Homo sapiens: one gene and its partners. The protein of the gene in region 2 interacts with the protein of the main gene of each other region in a biochemical or structural test. Each region holds a gene or a part of one and is shown on either strand. Other genes may lie near its edges.

The links. Proteins that work in one complex are often made in the same cells at the same time.
Region 1: the proteins of SMARCA5 (region 2) and CHRAC1 form a complex in vitro, tested with the Homo sapiens proteins (one study listed by BioGRID).
Region 3: the proteins of SMARCA5 (region 2) and BAZ2A form a complex in vitro, tested with the Homo sapiens proteins (one study listed by BioGRID).

The regions. Positions count from the first base shown.
Region 1 is NC_000008.11:140,506,419-140,514,337, reverse strand, and holds the start of CHRAC1 (chromatin accessibility complex protein 1), read right to left. Parts: upstream 3,017-7,919; 5' UTR 2,839-3,016; coding exon 2,692-2,838; intron 2,343-2,691; exon of another isoform or gene 2,313-2,342; intron 1-2,312. UniProt on the Homo sapiens protein: Forms a complex with DNA polymerase epsilon subunit POLE3 and binds naked DNA, which is then incorporated into chromatin, aided by the nucleosome remodeling activity of ISWI/SNF2H and ACF1.
Region 2 is NC_000004.12:143,544,695-143,551,717, reverse strand, and holds part of SMARCA5 (SWI/SNF-related matrix-associated actin-dependent regulator of chromatin subfamily A member 5), read right to left. Parts: intron 6,982-7,023; coding exon 6,871-6,981; intron 6,249-6,870; coding exon 6,135-6,248; intron 5,794-6,134; coding exon 5,671-5,793; intron 4,943-5,670; coding exon 4,810-4,942; intron 4,334-4,809; coding exon 4,215-4,333; intron 3,791-4,214; coding exon 3,578-3,790; intron 1,722-3,577; coding exon 1,614-1,721; intron 1-1,613. UniProt on the Homo sapiens protein: ATPase that possesses intrinsic ATP-dependent nucleosome-remodeling activity.
Region 3 is NC_000012.12:56,620,311-56,627,333, forward strand, and holds part of BAZ2A (bromodomain adjacent to zinc finger domain protein 2A), read right to left. Parts: intron 6,805-7,023; exon of another isoform or gene 6,707-6,804; intron 944-6,706; exon of another isoform or gene 841-943; coding exon of another isoform or gene 780-840; intron 1-779. UniProt on the Homo sapiens protein: Regulatory subunit of the ATP-dependent NoRC-1 and NoRC-5 ISWI chromatin remodeling complexes, which form ordered nucleosome arrays on chromatin and facilitate access to DNA during DNA-templated processes such as DNA replication, transcription, and repair.

The DNA.
Region 1 (7,919 bases), on a different chromosome or scaffold from region 2:
TGTGCTTTGAAAATGTACCACAGAAATTAATTTTTAAAATTACATTGTTGATTCCTTAATTAGGCTTAAAAGTATATTAAGACTTCAGATTCTCTTGGTTTCTCAAATTAAATTACAAGAAATCACTGGGGAGGCCAGGCGTGGTGGCTCACGCTGGTAATACTAACACTTTGGGAGGCTGAGGCAGGCGGCTCACTTGAGGTCAGGAGTTTGAGACCAGACTGGCCAACATAGTGAAACCCCATCTCTATTAAAAATACAAAAATTAGCTGGGCATGGTGGCGGGTGCCTGTAATCCCAGCCAGCGGGAGGCTGAGGCAGGCGAATCGCCTGAACCTGGGAGGTGGAGGTTGGAGATTGCAGCACTCTGGCCTGGGTGATCAAGCAAGACTCCGTCTCAAAAAAAAAAAAAAAAAAAAAAAAAGAAATCACTGGGGAAAAGAAAAACATGAGGTCAGAAAGAAAGCAAAGCCAGTATCAAAATTGGCGGAGAAGCAGGCATTTTCCAGAGGCTTATTTTAGATGTCTAACTTACGAAAAAGATGAATCGTAACTGTTTAATGACCAACCTCTAGAGTAAAAGAAAGAAGCGGCCGGGAGCTGTGGCTCAGGCCTGTAATCCCAGCACTTTGGGAGGCCAAGGACGGCGGACCAAGGATGGTCAGGAGATCGAGACCATCCTGGCTAACACGGTGAAACCCCGTCTCTACTAAAAATAAAATAAAAAAAAAAAACAAAATTAGCCGGGCATGGTGGCGGCTGTAGTCCCAGCTACTCGGGAGGCTGAGGCAGGAGAATGGCGTAAGCCCGGGAGGCGGAGCTTGCAGTGAGCCGAGATCGCGCCACTGCACTCCAGCCTGGGCGACAGAGCGAGACTCCGTCTCAAAAAAAAAGAAAAAAAAATAGAAAGTAGCAAAAAGCCATTCAAAAATTCTATTTGGCTCAGGAATACCTTTTTAGTCTTCTATTTGCATACACTGTTTCTAAGGTGGTTCACCTACAACTATAGTGACCACAGCTTACATTTTGCCAAAACTTTTCTATTCTAGGAACTGACATACAACCCTCAGACCTAATGAAACAACCGGAACTGATCTTCTCCCTCCTGCATCCCAGTTCTTATAGCAGGGCCAAGTCTTCATTTTTACAGAGGCTGAACTGAGCCTCTTTCTCAAGGTTTTGACTTTAATGCATCTAGTTCAGTTAATAAGGGATGAGAAAGACGGGCGTGATGGTTCACGCCTGTAATCCCAGCACTTTGGGAGGCTGAGGCAGACGGATCACCTGAGGTCAGGAGTTCAAGACCAACTTGGGCAACATGGTGAAACCCTGTCTCTACCAAAAAATACAAAAATTAGCCGAGTGTGATGGCAGGCACCTGTAATCCCAGCTACTCAGGAGGCTGAGGCAGGAGAATCATCTGAACCCGCGAGGCAGAGGTTGCAGTGAGCAAGACAGTGCCACCGCACTCCAGCCTGGGAAACTCCATCTCAAAAAATAAAATAACGGGTCAGAAGTGCCTGCATAAATCCTCATTCCTTAATACCAATAGAATGAAATTGTATAGGAAAATACAAATGTCCCCAGATGAAATGCTGAATATGCAATTATTTCCCTGGGCTCTAGGAAAACATGGCTCTGACATAAAGCGGGCAAGAAACCTGTAATTTCCCACTTCCCTTAGTTCTAGTCCAACACTGCAGGGACATCATATACTTAACTACAAGTAGGGACTGGAAAATAGAATCCAAGACAAGCTAAAGCATTTAACTGTGTAGCTGAAACATGGCCCAGTGTCAGAACAGGAAAACATCTGGCCTAACACTATCGAGACGCAATTTTTTTAAAAAAAGACAAAATTATCTATTTTGCACCCAGGAGGATGCTAAGCAGGCTGTAAAACTTAAGTTCCCCGGACTTCCTTAAATTCTGGTTGGGGAATGTGCTGCCTCTTAGACGAGGGGCCCCAGCTGTGGCGGGCGGGAGGGCTCGAAAGCCTCGGACCGCTGGAGCTGGCACCGCACGCGCGGGAAAAGAGCCTCGAGTCGCGGGTGAAGCGCCCGGCTGCCCCTCCCACGGGACACTGGAGGAGTTAGGGCCCTCAAAGCACGAAGCAGTCCAGTGACAAGAAAAAGGCAGGCCGGGAGTAGGGAGTCGCGGGTGAAAGAGCCCCCAAAGAACCCAAATGAGAAGAGCGCCACTAGGCGCCGACGCCCACGGGTAGGGCCGGAAACTGAGCGCCGCACGCGAGGGAGGACGTGAGCGCACAGGTGGGAGGGACGAAAGGCGCGCAGAGGAACGCGGGAGCTTACGGGTTTGCCGAATGGAAGCGCGAGAGAAACGGCGGGAGGACAGTGGGGTGGGCGGGGCGAAGGTGCGCACGGAAGGAAGGGGCGGGCGGAGCGAAGGAAGGCGACAAAGGGCGGGAGAGGCGCGCGGTAGGCGAGGCGAAGAAACTGGAGAACGTGAGGGAGCGGCGAGGGGTGGGCGGGGCGAAGACGCGCGAGAAAGTGTGGGGGCGCGCGGGCACCGAAGCGCGCGCCGGCGTGGGACGGGGACAGCGGGGCGCGCGCGAGCCCGGCAAGAGCAGCCGGCGGCGCGCGGGCCTAAGGGGACTGGGCAGTGCCCAGAGCCCGGCGGGGCGGGGCGCGAGGGGTAAGGGCGGCCCACACCCCCGCCCTGCCCCCTCACCGTGGCCTTGGCCGTGAGCACCAACGCCTCCTGGTTGATGCTGGACACCTCGGGGGAGCTCTTCATGATGACCCGGATGCGGGATAGAGGCAGCGAGATGAGCCGCTGCTCCCCGCCCTTGTCTTTACCCACGACCACGTCCGCCATCTTCCCGCCCGTCGCGCGGGTGCCCGCAGCCGGCGGGCCCGACCGCGAAGTGGCTGCCCTGCCCGGCCAGCTGGTGGGTACGGGGAGCCGCGCCCGCTGCCCCGTGGGAGTTGTAGTGTGGGGAGGCGAGGCCGCGAGGCCGGGAGCGGCCCGTCCGGGAAACTACGAGCTCCGTGAGGCCTCGCGCCCCCGATCTGCGCATGCGCCGACGCTCGGACACCGCCCCCGAGTGCGAGGCCCGGCGCGGAACCGGCAGCCGAGAGCCTGGCGGGGGCGGGGCGCACCGCGCCGCTCCCGGGAGTCTCCGGGCTGCGGTCGCGGAATACGACTTTGATCCGCGGGTGAGGGCTCTGTGAATGGGCAAGCAAAGCCCTCTGACTCCGGGCCTCGTGGCTGGGTGCTGTGTGTTAAGCGCCTGCGCTGTACTAGGACCGGGCGTGCCGCCGTCGGCAAAAAGTGACGCTTTCTTGAAGCACAAAGTCCAGGGGGGACGACCAAGCGGACAGCGGATGCGTCCTGCGCCGGTAGCCAGGCGACCGGTGGAAGAGCAGAGTCCAGCGCGGGCGATGCGGCGGGGCCAGGCTTGCTGCGCCGCGGGGTGATTGGGAGAAGAGCCTTCCTGCGGGGTGGAGGACGAAGAGCTGCCCTGAGGAGGTCCCGGAGTCTGGTGGGAACGGCCTCTTCGGGACTGCTCCGAGAGACGGTGTGCAGAGCCTGGCGTGCTCGCCGAGGTCTGACAGGCAGCCCGGGGCTAGGTCCTGTTGGATTTTTTTTTCTAAGGAAAATGGGAAGTGGTGGTAGGGTTTGAGCAGTGGAGTCCCGGGCAGTTTTAAAAGGATCCCTGCAGCTGCCGGCTGGGAGGGCGTGGGTGCGCGTAAGGCCGGAATCACAGAGACCAGGTAGAAGATGATTACGAGAACCCAGGAACGTGGCCCTCAGGAGGCCGGCAGTACCAAGGGGACAGCAGCTGGGAGGAGAGAGGCAGGAGATGGTCAGGGGCCAGACCAGGGAAGGCCGCGGAGACCGCAGAATTCGCTCTGAATGAGTGGGGAGGCCCTTGGAAGAGTAAGGGGTCCAACTTAACTTTTTTTTTTTTTTTTTTTTTTGACACAGAGTCTCGCTCTGTCGCCAGGCTGGAGTGCAGTGCGATCTCGGCTCACTGCAACCTCCAACACCCCGATTCAAGCAATTCTCCTGCCTCAGCCTCCTGAGTAGCTGGGATTATAGGCACGCGCCACCCAGCTAATTTTTTGTATTTTTAGTAGAGACGGGTTTTCACCATGTTGGCCAGGATGGTCTCGATCTCCTGACCTCGTGATCCGCCCGCCTCGGCCTACCAGAGTGCTGCGATTACAGGCGTAAGCCACCGCGCCTGGCCACCAACTTAACTTCTGCCAGGATCATGGGAAGTGGTAGGGTTTGGGGTCTGATTTCAAGAGGGAGCTGCTGTGGAGTATCAGCACAGCTTACTGAGATATCAGAAAGGCCTTGGTAAAGAGCCCTTTACTGAGACAGGGAGCACATTTTGGCAGAGGTTTGAATTGGAGCGTGTTAAGTGTAGTGTCTTCTTCACCACTGTGACGTGAGGTCCTGGCGCAAATAATTGAGCACAGAAATACATGTCAGGCATTGCTAGGCACAAGGGTACAGCCAGTGAGCAGGGCTGCCATGGTCCCTGCCCTCTTAGAGCTGACCTTCAGGTCTGAGGGAGACTGAAAAATAAGTAAGAATACCTCCAGCCGGGCGCTTTGGCTCACGCCTGTAATCCCAGCACTTTGGGAGGCCAAGGTGGGTGGATCACCTGAGGTCAAGAGTTCGAGACCAGCCCAACCAATATAGTCAAACCCCATCTCTACTGAAATTATTAAAATTAGCTGGGCGTGGTGGTGGGCACCTGTAATGCCAGCTACTCGGGAGGCTGAGGCAGGAGAATCGCTGGAACCCAGGAGGCAGAGGTTACAGTGATCCGGGATCGCGCCACTGCACTCCAGCAGCCTGGGCGACAGAGGGAGACTCCATCTCAAAAAAAAAAAAAAAAAAAAAATACACCTCCAATGCTGAAAGCTACGAAGGAAACAAAACCATGTGCGAGTGATAGGGCAGCCCCTCTGGGAAGTGACATTTGTGCCCAGATCTGAAGAAAGAAAAGGAGCCACTCATACAGAAAGACTGAGACAAGATGAGCTTTCGGGACAAGTCAGGCTCTAGGGAGAACACCTGACGAGGAAAATGCCTGGGCAGTTTGAGGAACTGAAAAGCCAGTGTGTCTGGAGCTTAGTGAGGGAGGCAGAGAGCACGGGAGGTGTGGTTACCAAGGTAGGTGGGACCGGCTCTGGCCCTGGGTAAAAAGTTTGACTTTCATTCCAAGAGTAATGGAAAATAATGAAGAATTTTGAACTCGAGGTGGTGCATGCCTGTAATCCCAGCACTTTGGGAGGCTGAAGCAGGCAGATCGCTTGAGCCCAGGAGTTTGAGATTAGCCCGGGCAGCATAACAGGGCAGCATCTCTACAAAAATTTTATTTTTGGCCGGGCGCGGTGGCTCACACCTGTAATCCCAGCACTTTGGGAGGCCGAGGGGGGGCAGATCTCCTGAGGTCAGGAGTTCGAGACCAGCCTGACCAACATGGCGAAACCCCGTCTCTACTAAAAATACAAAAAATTAGCCGGGCATGGTGGCACGCGCCTGTAATCCCAGCTACTTAGGAGGCTGAGGCAGGAGAATCGCTTGAACCCGGGAGGCGGAGGTTGCAGTGAGCCAAGATCACGCCACTTGCACTCCAGCCTGGGCAACAAGAGAGAAACTCCATCTCAAAAACAAACAAATCCAGACCAGCCTGGCTAACATGGCAAAACCCCCTCTCTACTAAAAATAGAAAAATTGGCTGGGCATGGTGGTAAGCACCTGTAATCTCAGCTGCATTGGCGGCTGAGGCAGGAGAATCACTTGAACTCAGAAGGTGGAGGTTGCAGTGAGCACAGATCACACCACTGCACTCCAGCCTGGGCAACAGAGCAAGACTCTCAAAAAAAAAAAGTTTTGAAGGGAGCAGATCCACTTTAAAAGCTCACACTGGTTCTTGAGTGATGACCAAATGGCACTGTGCCTTATGCAGAGCCGACTCCTGGCAGTTTGCACAGGCTGGAGGTGGAGCTGCAGACTCCCTCTCCCTCTCGGCCTTGCCTCTGTAAATGGGAAAGCCGTTGACATTCACAAAAGAGGGGCAGGGAACTGCTACACAAGAGCAGCTACACAAGAGGGTCCTTTGGTCCACACAGGAAACAAGCCATAGTGATGACATATTTTGAAGCTGTTAGATGTTTTGTTTCCCTAGCTGGCTATTATTTTTGTATGGCTTGTCTTTCTCTTTTGAGTATGTGTGAGAACAGGATGGGTTAACATTAGGGAAGAGCACAGAAGAGGAAGGAAGGAAAGAAGGAAGGGAGGGAGGGAAAGGAGAGAGAATAGGGATGAGAAGCTCAGCTTGTAGAATTGGCAGGTGATGTTTGCAGTCATTAATCATTTGAGAAGTAGAGAGAGAAGCCAAGCAGGAAATCTTCATACTGGAAAAGAAGTGCTCACCATTAAAAAAAAAAAAAAAAAAAATCCAGTGTGGTTCACAGCTGTAATCCCATCACTTGGAGGCTGAGGCAGGAGAAATACGTGAAGCCAGGAGTTTGAGACCAGCCTGGGCAATATAACAAGACCCACATCTCTACAAAGAGAAAAAAAATGTAAAAAAAAGAAGCTTTAAACCTAAGACGGCAGAATTCAAGACTGTTGTCCTTGAGAACTTCCTGGCTCTGGAAAAAGCTCAGTGAGTTAGTCTCATCCTGTCGTTAGCTCTGTTTTTTAGGGGCTCACTTTGTCTTCACGACAGTACCTTGCACCATTCTCATGGGTATCCCAGGGTGGTGCAAGGCAGTTTTCTGCACTTCCCAGAATGCCCTGTCAGCTGGCTTCTGGGTAGGTTCTGCAAATTGGAGGCCCCTGTGAAAGATCGCTGTGGGGTGGGAGGAAGAAGCTTTATCTGCCTGCTGGCTGCAGGGTAGAGGACTGCAGTGGGGTTATAGGGATCACCACCTGCACATGTGGAGCTTTGAGCGGCTTCACTCTAAGTTTCTGCTCAACAGTGGCAGCCCTGGAGTCCTTCGGGGGCGAGTGTGGGCTCCTGGGCTCCAGGCCAGGGGCAGTCCCAGCTTCCTGATCTCGAGGTAGCGTCTCCTCCCTTTTGCTCCATAGCACCTCGCCCTTCTCAGTGACGTGCCTCCTTCTCAGTCATGCGCCTCCAGCTCTAACAATGTCCTTGAAAACAATTCTTGACCATGCGCCGTGGCTCACGCCTGTAATCCCAACACTTTGGGAGTCTGAGGCAGGCGGATCACTTGAGGTCAGGAGTTTGAGACCAGCCTGGCCAACATGTAATCCCAGCTACTCCCTCCACTTGATTTGTGTTCCTTGAAGAAATTTGCATAATCCCTGTATCTGGTTGGCAGATAGCAGAGATGTAGCCTCAGTCTTTCCTTTAAAAATTTTGCTTTAGGCAGGGCGCGGTGGCTCACACCTATAATCCCAGCACGTTGGGAGGCCAAGGTGGGCAGATCATGAGAGCAGGAATTTGAGATCGGCCTAGCCAATATGGTGAAACCCCGTCTCTACTAAAAATATAAAAATTAGCTGGGCGTGGTGGCACAAGCCTGTAATCCCAGCTATTTGGGAGGCTGAGGCAGGAGAATCGCTTGAATCCAGGAGGCAGAGGTTGAGATGAGCCGAGATCACGCTATTGCACTCCAGCCTGGGCAACAGAGGGATACTCCATCTCAAAAAAAATTTTTTGCTTTAGGGCCAATCGTGGTGACACACGCTTGTAATTCTGGCACTTTGAGAGGCCGAGGCAGGTGGATAATTTGAGGTCAGGGGTTCGAGAGCAGACTGGCCATGATGGTGAAATCCCATCTCTACTAAAAATACAAAAAAAGCCAGGTATGGTGGCATACGCCTGTAATCCCAGCTACTCGGGAGGCTGAAGCAGGAGAATCACTTGAACCCGGGAGGTTTAGGTGGCATTGAGCCGAGATTGC
Region 2 (7,023 bases):
GTCCATACATCTACATGGAACTCATTTTTGACAAAGCTACCAAGAACATACACTGGAGAAAGGACAGTCTCTTCAATAAATGGTAATGGGAAAATTGGATATCCATACACAGAAGAATGAAACTTGACCTGTATCCCTAACTATATAAAAAAATCAAATCAAAATGTATTAAAGACTTTAAGTCCTCAAACTGTGAAACTACAAGAAAACATTGGGAAAACTCTCCAGAACACTGGACTGGGCAAAGATTTCTTGAATAATACCCCACAGGCAACCAAAGCAAAAATGGACAAATGGGATCACATTAAGTTAAAAAGCTTCTGCACAGCAGAGGAAACAGCAAAGTGAAGAGACATCCCACAGAATGGAAGAAAATATTTGCAAACTACCCATTTGTCAAAGGATTAATAAATAACCAGAATATGTAAGAGCTCAAACAACTCTACTGAAAAAAATCCTAACAGTCCGATTTAAAAATAGGCAAAAGATCTGAACAGATGATTCTCAAAGGAAGACATACAAATGGCAAACAAGCATATTAAAAGCTGTTCAGTATCACTGATCATCAGAGAAATGCAATCAAAACTACAATGAGATAACATCTCATCCCAGATAAAATGGCTTTTATCCAAAAGTCAGGCAATAACAAATCCTGACAAGAATGTGGAGAAAAGGAAACCCTCATACACTTTTGGTGGGAACGCAAATTAGTACAATCACTGTGGAAGCAGTTTGAAGGTTCCTCAAAAAACTACAGATAAGAGTTACCCTACTCCTAGGTTTACACCCAAAAGAAAGTCAGTATATCAAAGAGATATGTGCACTCCCATGTTTACTGCAGCACTATTCACAGTAGCCATGATTTGGAAGCAACCTAAGTGTCCATCAACAGATAAATGGATAAAGAAAACATGGTATGTATACACAATAGAATACTATTCAACCATAAGCAATGAGACCCTGTAATTTGCAGCAACATGGATGGAACTGGAGTTTATTAAGTGAAATAAGCCAGACACAGAAAGACAAACTTGGCATGTTCTCACTTATTTGTGGGAGCTAAAAACTACAATTAAACTCATGGAGACAGAGAGAAGGATGGATACCAGAGGCTGAGAAAGGCAGTGGGGGTGGGGGAAAGTGGGGCTGGCTAATGGATACAAATAAATACAAAGAGAGACTAAGACCCAGTATTTGATAGCCCAACACAGTGACTACCGCAATAAATAATTTAATTATACATTTTAAAATAACTAAGAGTTAAACTGTTTGTAACAGGGATAAATGCTGGAGGTGATAAATACCCCATTTACCCTGATGTCCTTATTACTTATTGCATGCCTGTATCAAAGTATCTCATGTAACCTATAAATACATACTTACTCATAACAACTAAAAATTAAAAATTATACCACTACCTAAATTTGAAAGTGGAAGAATCTCAAATTATGAGCTTGGGTTCTCCCTTAAGGAAAAAAAAAAAAAAAAAAAAGTAAAGGCAATGGAGGGGTGCACAACAGGGACTAACACATCAATGACAGCCAAGCAGTGTTAAATACTTAGAAAGGGGAAATTTACATAATCCACATATTTACATATTCATGAATACTTACTGAAGGCTTTGGTCCTCGTTTCTTTTTCTCTGCCTTCTCCTTTTCTTCTAGTTCCATGTTTTCTCTTTCAATCAAAGTAATTAAGGTATTACATCTCCTCTGGAGCTCCTAAATTATAAACAAACATGGTACACGCACTTTCCATCCACAAGTTTCATGATTTCAATTTTAAAACAAGGTATGTTTTAATAGGATAATATATAAAACCACTAATACACCCCTGATTTAAAAAAAAAACAACTGATTTTCATATACAATTCATGCTATGAAGATTAAAGGCAAGATATTTGTAAATAATGTTTTTACTCCAATCTTTAAAGCCAAACTACTGTGTATTCTTCAAAAATTCTTCCTTCACTTAGGAATTAAAGCAATAAAAATGAACATATGCAATACTGCTACTTAGTGTGTATGTCTGAGAACTACTGTGCTACTTATATCCAAAACTTAAAAAGATTAATAGTGCACATATGTGAGGGTCAAAAACAACAAGAACTTTAACAGGTGTGTATAATCTTTCCCTTCAAAGTATCACTAGAATTATGGTAGTCAATCAATCACATGGCACCTTTCCCAATTTTGGAAAACCAGCCATGGAAGTCTACGATGAGTTCTACCTCATCTCTCTCTGGCAAACTGGACATACAGCCTCCAGAAAAGATTTAAAGTATAACATAGAAGTAGCAGTTAACCCTGAAAGAAACAGAAGTCCATCTGCACGGACGGCTGCTGGGTAGCAGCCCCCTTTCTTATAGAGCAAAATTATTTTTTTCTTATAGTAAGTGATACTACTACACACACAACTACAGTAAAATAATTTTAAAATACTACTGTATAGAATACACCACACAAGACTTAGAAATAGTATATAGAGATAGAAGAATACATTATCATTTTTTGTGCATCTTAACATGGAACATGTTAAGAAGTAACACAGTTTTAAATTACGGTACTGTACTAGTTAAATTAACATGGCACTGTCTTGTTACAATCACTATAAAATTATTCTTTATTAACTCTATAAATTGTTCCCACTTAAGAAGAAATAAGCTTTCAGCAACTGGATCTTTTCTCTAATTATATATTTATACAGTGTTTTATCTTCAAAGTATCTTCATGTATTTAAGTTTAGTACATTTCCCAAACTTGGGTATCACAAACAGTGATGTCTAGTGAAAAAAAATTTTCAGTGGTCAAACATGAAAATACTGCTTACTATCCACTGTCTTACAAAGTGACATTTTACTTTAAATATACAGAGAAATCTTACTATAAACAAACACAAAGATGTTTAAACTTTGCTTATCCCAGAATATCCCAAACTTAAGACTAAAGAACTTATTAGCATTATCCTCATCTGGCAGAAAACAAGTTGAAGCTCAAAGTTCAATGGTGGTGAAATAAGGAAGAAAAGGAGCAATCCATCAAAGTTAAACTTTTCTGAATTCAAATTTTAGGTTATTAGAAATGGGGCTATTTGGTCAGAAACTGTTAGTCAGATATTGGGAATAAAAACAAAACCTAGCACTAAATCAGTGCAAAAGTAGTGTTTCACTATAATAAGCCATCTTAAAATAATCCAGACTCTGGATGATTTATATTAAATAAATCAGAATGCTGATTCTGATGTGCAGATGCTTGAATGCAAGGACCATTTTTCTTTATAGAAATATGTTCATTTGAAAAACCAAAAAGTCGTAACACTCAGAAGTTGAAACTGATACTTCCTCCCACTTAGAACTTGAAAAGCTAGTCTTATCATATAGTGATATTTAAAGACGTAAGATACTAAAGGATAGGACCAATAAACTTGTAAGCTATCCCTGGTATTAGGTTTTATGATACTAACAATATTGTAACAAAAGTCTACTTCATAGATTTTTTTAAAGTCACCTTAAAGAATACCAAAGATGACACTTACTCTGAACTCTGCTACATTACACAAAAAAGCCCTGAGCACTCACCATTGCAGTTCTGGACTTAAGAAACCAGTCAAATCTGAACTGAGGAGAGTTGCGAATACACTGTCGCAATTCATCATAAACATTTTCTTTGTCAAATCCAAGTTTGTGAAGCATACAAATCAGAAAACGATCTTCTTCTTCAGTATAGTTTTTTCCTTTGTTAGTACCATATGATATTCTCAGCTGATGAAAAGGTGCTTTGTACCGTCCAATCTATGAAAGTCAGATTTTATATTATATAAAATACAAATCCTATATAATCTGTATTTCAAACTCAGCTTTAGTATAATTAGCTAAAATGTTGCATTTCAAATCAGAATTTTCTATCTAGAGCACTTCAATTGCTTTATATAATCTTTGTCCCGAAAGACCTTTATAGTCTTTATTATTATAAAGAGAAATACAGACTAAGACTTCCTGATTCTACTTAGTAAAAAGCTAATCTTAGTGTCTTTGACTCAGATCTATCAGTCTAGTGTATAGGTAAATTCTGCTGACAATACCATGTTTGAATGCTACTCTGAAGAAATTTTAAATTGTAAACCCTTACTTCTTTTCCTTTATAAAAAGTCACTCTCTCATACTCACAGCTAGGAGTTATTTTATTAACTACCTAACTTATTAACAAGCAAATTACCTTTGTGTCAAGTGCTTTCTTGATGCTTATTCTTCTTTGAATTCTCGCCTCTCCCCTTTCAATCTGAGCCATAATCTTCTCTATGTCCTGGAGCTCGTTGCACCTTTCCCAAAACACAGCTGTAAAAGTTGGACAAAGTAAACAAATCATTTATATTTTTATTTCTTTAATGTAAAAAAAATGGGATCAACTGGATTATTTATCTTCTAATTCTTAAATTTCTGCTATTCTAAGCAGACTCACCACAGCATACCCTCACATGTTAACCTAATAATACAACTGACTTCAGGAAACACAACACATAATACTTGAAGTTATGCAGAGAAATTAAGATAAAAATGCAAGGGCAATTATCCAGTGACTTATTCTGATTTTCTTTGCTGTCGCTAGAGTTAGCTAGGGTTAAAAAATTTTTAAAAAGGAAACCATTACGCCATTTCTGGAAACAGAACATTTTCTAATTTGTAAAAAATAATGAAGAAGGTACTAACTACACTGTGACAAAATTAGCTAATCACAACATAATTCAGAATAAGAAAACAAGAACCTTCCAACAGCTCTTACTAAACTCCAACAGCCTGCTTAAAAGAATTACCTGAATATTCAATGACTTCTTCTGGAGTTTTGCCTTCTACTTCTCTTGCTATATTTTCAATATCATCACGACCCCACTTCTCATTAGCTTTGATAAACTGGTTAAAATCTCTCTTATTCCAATTGGTAAATCCCTTCACAGGAACAGAAACAAAATATTTAATCACAGCACATTAAACTTGGAAAACATGCTATTAGCAAACCTTCTAAATATTACAAAAACAAATTTTCACTAGTTTATTAAGTTCTTTTAGAGTGGTAACTTTTCGTGTACATAAATATACACTTTTGACAACACATTATATATTGCTCAAATACCCAAGCAATTAAATATGAGTGGCTGAGAGTAAGGAATACTGTATGAAAAGGTGACAGTTTCACTGAGCTTTGAAGGATTACTAGCAGTTGGCCAGAAAGAGTGAATAACATAAAGGGCAAAAATATGAGCAAGTAGAAAAATGGAAGGAAAATGAAGCTTTAAAGGTAAGTCAAAGGCCAGATTCTGAAAGACCTTGATGAACACCAAAGGATGTTTAAAAAATAACCAAGCCAAGATTTATAGTTGAAAATGGTGACTGGGTAGCAATGTGGAAAATTCATAGGAAAGACGGGAACATTCAAAGTAAGGTGATAAAAAAGATACCCACTCTACCGAGCCAGAGTAATAAAATCTGTAGTCTTCTCAACTACCTCAACTAGTGACAATCAGATGGAGCATTTATCCACATGCCCATACTTTATTGTCTCCAATTATTCCATCTTTAAAAGCAGAAACTTGTATTTATTTTTATGCCCCAACATAACCTAACACAGTCCTTTACAACAAACTGTTACTAAAGTTTGTACTGATTAAAGGCTATACCTGTGTTAGAAGCTTCTCTTTTTCCTCTAACTCTTCATCATTAAGGGATTCAGCTTCATCAATTTTAAGCTGTTCTTCTTTTTGTGCCTGTGCTGCATTAGGCAGCTCAGGATTTCGAGGTACCTAAAAGATATTTTTCTATGCCATCAAATCAGTAAATTTTAAAGAGCATGTGATGAACCAACTAACTGACATTTCACAAGTTTCAATTCAACCAGGAAAGAAAATATACTGATACATTGCATGTATTATGTTAAAAACAAACCAGATTGGTCATGAAGTCTTATTTTTTCTTGTTAAAGAAAAACAGACCCAAGTTTATGTATTTCATACATACAACTAGACTAGGCTAAAGCAGTATTGTTTCACACTAGGTCCAAATTAGATAAATATTTATAACTAATGTTTATACCTTCCATAATTTCTGGATAGGAATGAACAGAAAGGCAGATAATTTCAATTACCTTGTACCCAATAGTTTTTCTGTAAAACAGAATTTCTTTTTCCAGTAATTCAAATAAACGTGGAGGAAAGAACTGGAAATCCTGAACATTGGGTTGTTTTGGAGGTCGAGGAGCCTAAAGAAAAACAAAAATAAGTGTTATCCATAAAAAAGAAATTTCATTTTAAATGTATCCTTAGTCCTCACTTCATAAACCACAACAGCCAATTCTGCAAGCAACTGAATGCATCTTTCAATAAAACTGAATTTATATCTTAATTTTAAATGCACAGATTCAAAATTAATTTTTGAAAAATGTTAACTAAAAACAGAAGAGAGTACACTCTAAAGAAATGCAAAATGTAGGAAAGAGGCAGTGGCTCACGCCTGTAATCCCAATACTTTGGGAGACCAAGGTGGGCGGATCATGAGGTCAAGAGATCAAGACCATCCTGGCCAACATGGTGAAACCCCATCACTACTAAAATTACAAAAATTAGCCAGGGGTGGTGGTGGGTGCCTGTAGTCCCAGCTACTCGGAAGGGTGAGGCAGGAGAATTGCTTGAACCCGGGAGGCGGAGGTTGCAGTGAGCTGAGATCGCACCACTGAACTCCTGGTAACAGAGTGAGACTCTGTCTCAAAAAAAAAAAAAAAAAAGAAACACAAAATCTAATTATCAATCTTTTTGCAAGAATATATGAAAAAAATTACATTTTCAAAATTTTTAGATATTTTTATGCTGTGTCAGTCAACTCACCTTGGGTGCTTTAGGTTCACTAACACGAAGAGCTTCCCTGAAATATGCATCAACGGCATAGTTGGCTTTTCTTTCTCGTTTAGGTGGTTCAATCCACTCTGTGAATGCAATCTAGCACATGGGAAACAACTCAAATCACCAACTTTTATTATA
Region 3 (7,023 bases), on a different chromosome or scaffold from region 2:
TCAGTGAAAAAATGGAGTCTTTATAGTGAAAAGACCCCAGGTTAGCCAGGCATGATGGTGAGCAGCTGCAGTCCCAGCCACTTGGGAGGCTGAGGCAGGAGGATTGTTTGAGCCTGGGAAGCAGAGATTGCAGTGAGCCAAGATCATGCCACTGCATTCCAGCCTGGGTGACAGAGCGAAACCCTGTCTCAAAAAAACAAAACAAAACAAAACAAACAAACAAACAAAACACACAGGGTCCTCCAGGATTTCCTTTTTTTTTTTTTGAGACAGAGTTTCCCTCTTGTTGCCCATGCTGGGGTGCAAGGGTGTGATCTCGGCTCACTGCAACCTCCACCTCCCAGGTTCAAGCGATTCTCCTGCCTCAGCCTCCCCAGCAGCTGGGATTACAGGCACCCGCCAACACGCCCAGATAATTTTTTATCTTTTTAGTAGAGACGGGGTTACACCATGTTGGCCAGGCTGGTCTTGAATTCCTGACCTCAAGTGATCGACCCACCGCGGCCTCCCAATGTGCTGGGATTACAGCCATGAGCCACTGCGCCCAGTCAGGATTTCCCTAGTATAGTTAACAGCTACTCCTCAGCAGTAGGGGGTCTGAAAGATAAGCATCATGAGATTAATAATCCTTCTTAAGTGCAAGAATTAAAGGAAAGTTCATTCCTTAGTCTCCAGTTAGGTTCCTTCCAAAGCTTATACCACAGAGCAAGGAGGACACTCTTCACTTCAGAAGTCCTGGAAATACTATGCCTAGAGGGCCAATTTCATCTGATCCTCACCTCTCCTCTCCCCAGTTTTTTGTACACCTCCCCTGGTGTGGAGGATACATGCAACTTCCATCCTATGTGCAGTGGACTATATCCTCCTCAATGATGGGTCACGGTTCATTTTTCCATTCTCTATTTGAATCCAAGAACAAAGTTGTGACCTCCTCTCTGCTGCTCTGGAAAAGCACAGCATATCCTGTTTTTGTAAATATTAATAACAACATGTCGATGGCTCACAGAAATCAGAGAATTAAAAAGAATGGGAAGTTATTTAGTATGTGAGATCAGTTTCTCCACCTGTCTCTTCTGAACTGTCATCAGAACCACAACCACTTCATTTACGAGAAGCTTCCTAGACACATAAAATTGTCTTTGTGCTATGCAATGTGGTCAGCACAATGTAGTGGGCTCTAGGTTCAAATCCCAACTCTACTATTTACTAGCTAGCTGTTTAACCTTGGACAAGTTACTTATACTTGCTGGGCCTAAGTTTCATCATCTGTAACAATTTTTGTACCCACTTTTAAGGACTGGTGAGGATGAAATGAGAAAATCTAAATTAGAGCCCCAGCACAGTGTCTGTCATCCAGCAAGCACTCCATAAACGTTAGTTTTTTTTTTTTCTTCTTGAGACAGAGTCTCACTCTGTCATCCAGAGTGGTGTGCAGTGGCATGATCATAGCTCACTGCAGCCTGGAACTCCTGGGCTCCAGTAATCCTCCTGCCTCAGCTTCCCAAGTAGCTAGGACTACAGGTGCTCACCACCACACCTGGCTAATTTTTAAATTTTTTTGTAGACACAGGGTCTCGCTATGTTGCCCATGATGGTCTCAAATTCCTGGCCTCAAGCAATTCTCCCACCTTGACCTCCCAAAGTGCTGGGATTACAGGCGTGAGCCACCTTACCAGGACTACATTAGCTACTATTATTAGACAAACAGTAAAAGACTGTGTAGTTTTCAAAAAGATAATCAGGCCTGGCCAGGCGCAGTGGTTCACGCCTGTAATCCCAGCACTTTGGGAGGCCAAGGTGGGTGGATCACCTGAAGTCAAGAGTTCGAAACCAGCCTGGCCAACATGGCGAAACCCCATCTCTATTAAAATTACAAAAAATTAGCTGGGCGTGGTGGCGGGCACCTGTAATCCCAGCTACTCAGGAGGCTGAGGCAGGAGAATTGCTTGAATCCAGGAGATGGAGGTTGCAGTGAGCTGAGATCGCACCATTGCACTCTAGCCTGGGTGACAGAGCAACACTCTATCTCCAAAAAAAAAAGATAATCAGGTCTAAACGGTCTACATATAAAATAAATATAATTTAAAACTAGGGATGATCCAGCCAGACTTCCTTATATACAATTTGACTCCTGATTTCAGATGTCACTTAAATATGGGAATTAATTATGTCACAGTATGGGAATACGAAAAACATGTGAACACCTCCTCTCAACAATGAACCTAGGTTTATTTCATTTTAACCTTCCTACTCAAGATGCTTTTCACAATAAACCCTAAAGGTAAACTCTGTCCTCCCATCCAGAGCTAGTAAGAACAGTAAAGCAAAGGAGAGCATCTCCCTTTGAACTAATAGGATTTTCACCAAATGAGAAAAGAAATCAGCCAGTGCCCAACCCCTAGAGTAGCAGATGACTCTCATACCAGGAAGTACATTCATTCAAGCACCCAGCCCAGTCCCAGCTATACATAAATGGATCTTTTAAGAGCTCCTATGTTTCATTTATAAGAGTAAGGGACATTGCCCTATAAGCTTGAAGCAATAAAGCCCTCCCCACAGGGCCGAATAGGTTGCTTTTCTCCCAGTTCCAATCAAAGAGCTGCTACTCTGTGGGCCTGTGACATGGTTTAATAGAAAAAGGCTGACAACACCAAGAGCAGTGGCTCGTGTAATCCCAGCACTTTGGGAGGCCGAGGTGAGCGGATCACGAGGTCAAGAGATCGAGACCATCCTGGCTAACACGGTGAAACCCTGTCTCTACTAAAAATAGAAAAAATTAGCCAGGCGTGGTGGCGGGCACCTGTAGTCCTACCTACTCGGGAGGCTGAGGCAGGAGAATGGCGTGAACCCGGGAGGTGGAGGTTGCAGTGAGCCGAGATCGCGTCACTGCACTCCAGTCTGGGCGACAGAGCGAGACTCCATCTCAAAAAAAAAAAAGAAAAAGGCTGACAATGCACAAAGTGTTGAAATAAATATTATATATTGCAACACTGTTACAGGTGTCCTCCCTGACCAATTCTAACCCTCCAGCCTCTGAGGCTACCCCCCAGGACAACAAGACACATTAACACCCTCCAGCTGGATACTGCAGTGGTCCCTGCAGCTCTTGGGTTCATTCTTCTCATGTAGTACATCAAAATCTCACAAATGGGGTTGGGGGGTGAGAGAGATTTCAAATGTTTATCTTGACTAAACAGCAAAGGCAAATTCTAGAGTAAAAATCACACCACTACATTTTAGCTTTGTAATTGTGAACATCATGAAGGATATTTCTTAACTCTACACATCTCTGGATTACCCACCACACTCTAATACAGAGGTTCTCATCAGGGGCAATTCTGCCCCGTAGGGGACATTTAGTAATCTCTGAAGGTATGTGCTACTGGCATCTAGTAAGCAGAAGCCAAAGATGCTGCTAGGCGTCCTTCAACAAACAGGACAGCGCCCCCCACAACGAAGATATTATCTGGCCCACGTTATCAATAGTGCCAAGGCTGAGAAACCCTGTTCTAATGTAAAAGCTGTCCCATTCCTGCCCCACACCTTGGGAAAGTTCCAAGTTTTCACTGTTCCCAGTTCCTGACACTGCAAATGAGGACGCTTTGGCTTTTGTATCTAAAAACCTCATCTCCCTGGCTAAGCCATGTTCCTCCACCAATAAGAGTTCCATGTAGGCTGGGAGAGGTGGCTCATGCCTATAACCTCAGCAGGATCACTTGAGGCCAGGAATTCAAGACTGGCCTGCGCAACACAGTGAGACCCTATCTCTACACTAAAAAAAAAAAAAAAATTCCAAGTACCAAGCCACAGAATAAATATGCCCTCTTCTCCAATCACGATAACCCATTCTGAGTGCCCTAGTAACAAGCTTCCCTTGAACTCTGACTCGGACAAACTATATCATATACTGACTGAGGCTCAAAATATCCATCCTCTCCTTAACTACCTTCCCTAGTCAGGACTCCAAGTGAGGCAGAACAAAGATAATGAAAGAAGGAAGATTATACTAAGAGGGGGCTACTCAAAGAAAACTGTCACGTCCAGGCTGTTCAGAAGAATTCAAAGATGACTGTTCTCTGTCCTTATTTCTTCTACATTATGTCGGTTCCACAGCATCAGTTGGATATAAGTTCCACCATTATATCCCTAGCACCTAATTTAGTGCTAAGTATACAAAAGAACCAAAGGAAATATTTGTTGAGTCCATGGACTGAAGAAATGAATGAGTAAATCTACCTTTTCTGCCACTACCAGCTTACTTATCCAATGAAGGTCATGGGCTTTGCTCTTACTATTTTCAGAGAACAAAAAAAAAAAAAAAAAACTCAGCTTCATTCTTCACAGAGATAAAAATTTCAAGAGAGAAGAAAGGCCTCAAATCTTGACGTACTTAAATAGCCATTCCTTGAAGAAAATAAGGCCTGAAAATAGGGAAGTACTGATAATGTAAAAAGCCAATAAATTAGCTAGGCATGGTGGCATATGCCTGTAGTGCCAGGTTCTCCGGAGGCTGAGGTGGGAGGATTATTTGAGTCCAGGACCTGGAGGCTGCAGTGGGCTATGATCACACCACCGTTTTCAACCAAATAAAAAAATAAATAAACGTAAGCTCTGAATTAATAAAACATTCTACTTGGTTTAACTGAACACTTGAGGCATATAATAGGTTTTTATATATTTGTTAATTAAAGAAACTACAGGTTAAGTTTTCTGCCACATTTCCAGTCACTTTACTCTCAGAAGACCAGGAATGCCTCTGAAATTGCAGGACACTAAAAGCCACAGTCCAGAGGTTATATTAAGGTAATTTCCCTCTTTCAGCTCTGATTGTTTCTTAGAATTTCTTTTTTTTTTTTTTTTTTTTTGAGACAGTGTGGCTCTGTTGCCCAGGCTGGGGTGCAGTGGCACGATCTCTGCTCACTGCAACCTCCATCTCCCCGGTTCAAGCAATTCTCCTGCCTCAGCCTCCCAAGTAGCTGGGATTACAGGCGCCCACCATCACACCCGGCTAATTTTCATATTTTTAGTAGAGACAGGGTTTCACCATGTTGGTCAGGCTGGTCTTGAACTCCTGACTTCAGGTGATCCGCACGCCTCAGCCTCCCAAAGTGCTGCGACTGCAGGCTGAGCCACCGTGCCCAGCCAGAATTTAAACTCTAACAGTTAAGGACTCCACCCTTTCCACCCCCAAATATGAGCTAAGCAGGCAGGTTAAGGACCCCATTCATGAGGCAGGTTACAGAGTCCAACCTCAAAAGACTAAAAGTAGGAAGACCATCTATCTTTTAAAAACTTCTTGGCTCACGCCTGTAATCCCAGCACTTTGGGAGGCCGAGACGGGCGGATCATGAGGTCAGGAGATCGAGACCATCCTGGCTAACACGGTGAAACCCCGTCTCTACTAAAAATACAAAAATTAGCCGGGCATGGTGGCGCGCGCCTGTAGTCCCAGCTACACGGGAGGCTGAGGCAGGAGAATGGCGTGAACCCGGGAGGCGGAGCTTGCAGTGAGTCGAGATCGCGCCACTGCACTCCAGCCTGGGCGACACAGCGAAACTCCGTCTCAAAAAAAAAAAAAAAAAAAAAACAACAACAAAAAACTTCTTCCTTTCTTTGGTAAATTTTTGGCAAGATTACAGTATTTTAGTCTGCAAAATGCCCCCATAATAACTGTTCTCTTTAAAGAGGAGAAAAGACAAAACACTAAGCCAATGCTACTTTTACTGCTAGTGACAGTATCTTCAAAGTATCAGATATCTTCAAAGATGGGCTTTTTTGTTTTGCACAATTTTTTAAATTTCCAAATTAGGCAGACTGATAATAACAAGCTGGTGAAAAATAGTCCTACTGACCCACATGAGATAATACTGAGAAACTATTCATCTTGGGCTATATATAAGGCATATGAGGACACCAACATCCTAAGAAACAAACCAAGAAGGTTATTTACCCCAGGAATTATCTCAAATTTTATACTTGGCATTATTGCTGCTCTTGATACATCTTACACAAGGTCAAACATCATTATCAATGACTAACTTCTATACTGTTTCAGCAGTAAAAATAGCAGTTTGGTGCTTGACCTCTTCAGTGGTGACAAGAAAGGTCAACAGCAGGAAGACACTGTCAGTAACCCTAACAAGCTTTGCTTCTCTCCCAGTAATACTTGATTCCAGAGCCGCAAGACTACAAGATGAACCCTTCATTCTAGACTGGCTCTGGGGTCAGCCCATACAGCTCTCTTTACACCTCAGATTTTTTCTTTCATCGAGAAGCTTGAAATATTAAGAAATATATTTCTCTGACAGAAAAATGCACCCATTTTATAAGAAGGCCATGAAAGGTTTGCTTCATTCAGCTCCCAATTCAATCATGTATCAAATGAAATCACTATTTTCTCAAAATCAGCTTTTCTTTTAAAAGTCCAAAGACTCAAGAGTAGTTATCTCTCCTTTCTTTACTCTTTTAACCCCCAACAGGGAAAATCAACTTGCTGTTCTGTCAAGTGCCAATTCAGGTAAGCAAAGGCTGAAGAAAGGGGAACTTAAAATCAGCATCAAATCAACCCCATCAGACAGCAACTTAAAGGAACTAATCAGGGGCAAGAAAAAGGATGCTGACATCAGATGGACTTGTTTTTACTGTTTCCAGAATATCAAAAACCCCAACAGCCCCAGTGAGAAGAGCAATGATGCTGCTATCTTACTAGTGATGATGCCACTTTCACACAATCATAAGTGTCTATCTGCTCCCATACTGGATCTTTAATCTAGGGATCTTCATCTAGGTGGGAGGGGTTTTTGCCTGGAAAATAAATAGTGAAAAGATGATTTAAATGACAGGCTTACGTAGTTTTCAGAATAGTCCAAATAATCTGAAAATGTTATCTTTCAAGGCTTGGCCCTGTGGCTTATGCCTGTAACCCCAGCACTTTGGGAGGCTCAATTCGAGTTCGAGACCAGCCTGACCAACATGGTGAAACCCCTTCTCTACTAAAAATACAAAAATTAGCCAGGCATGGTG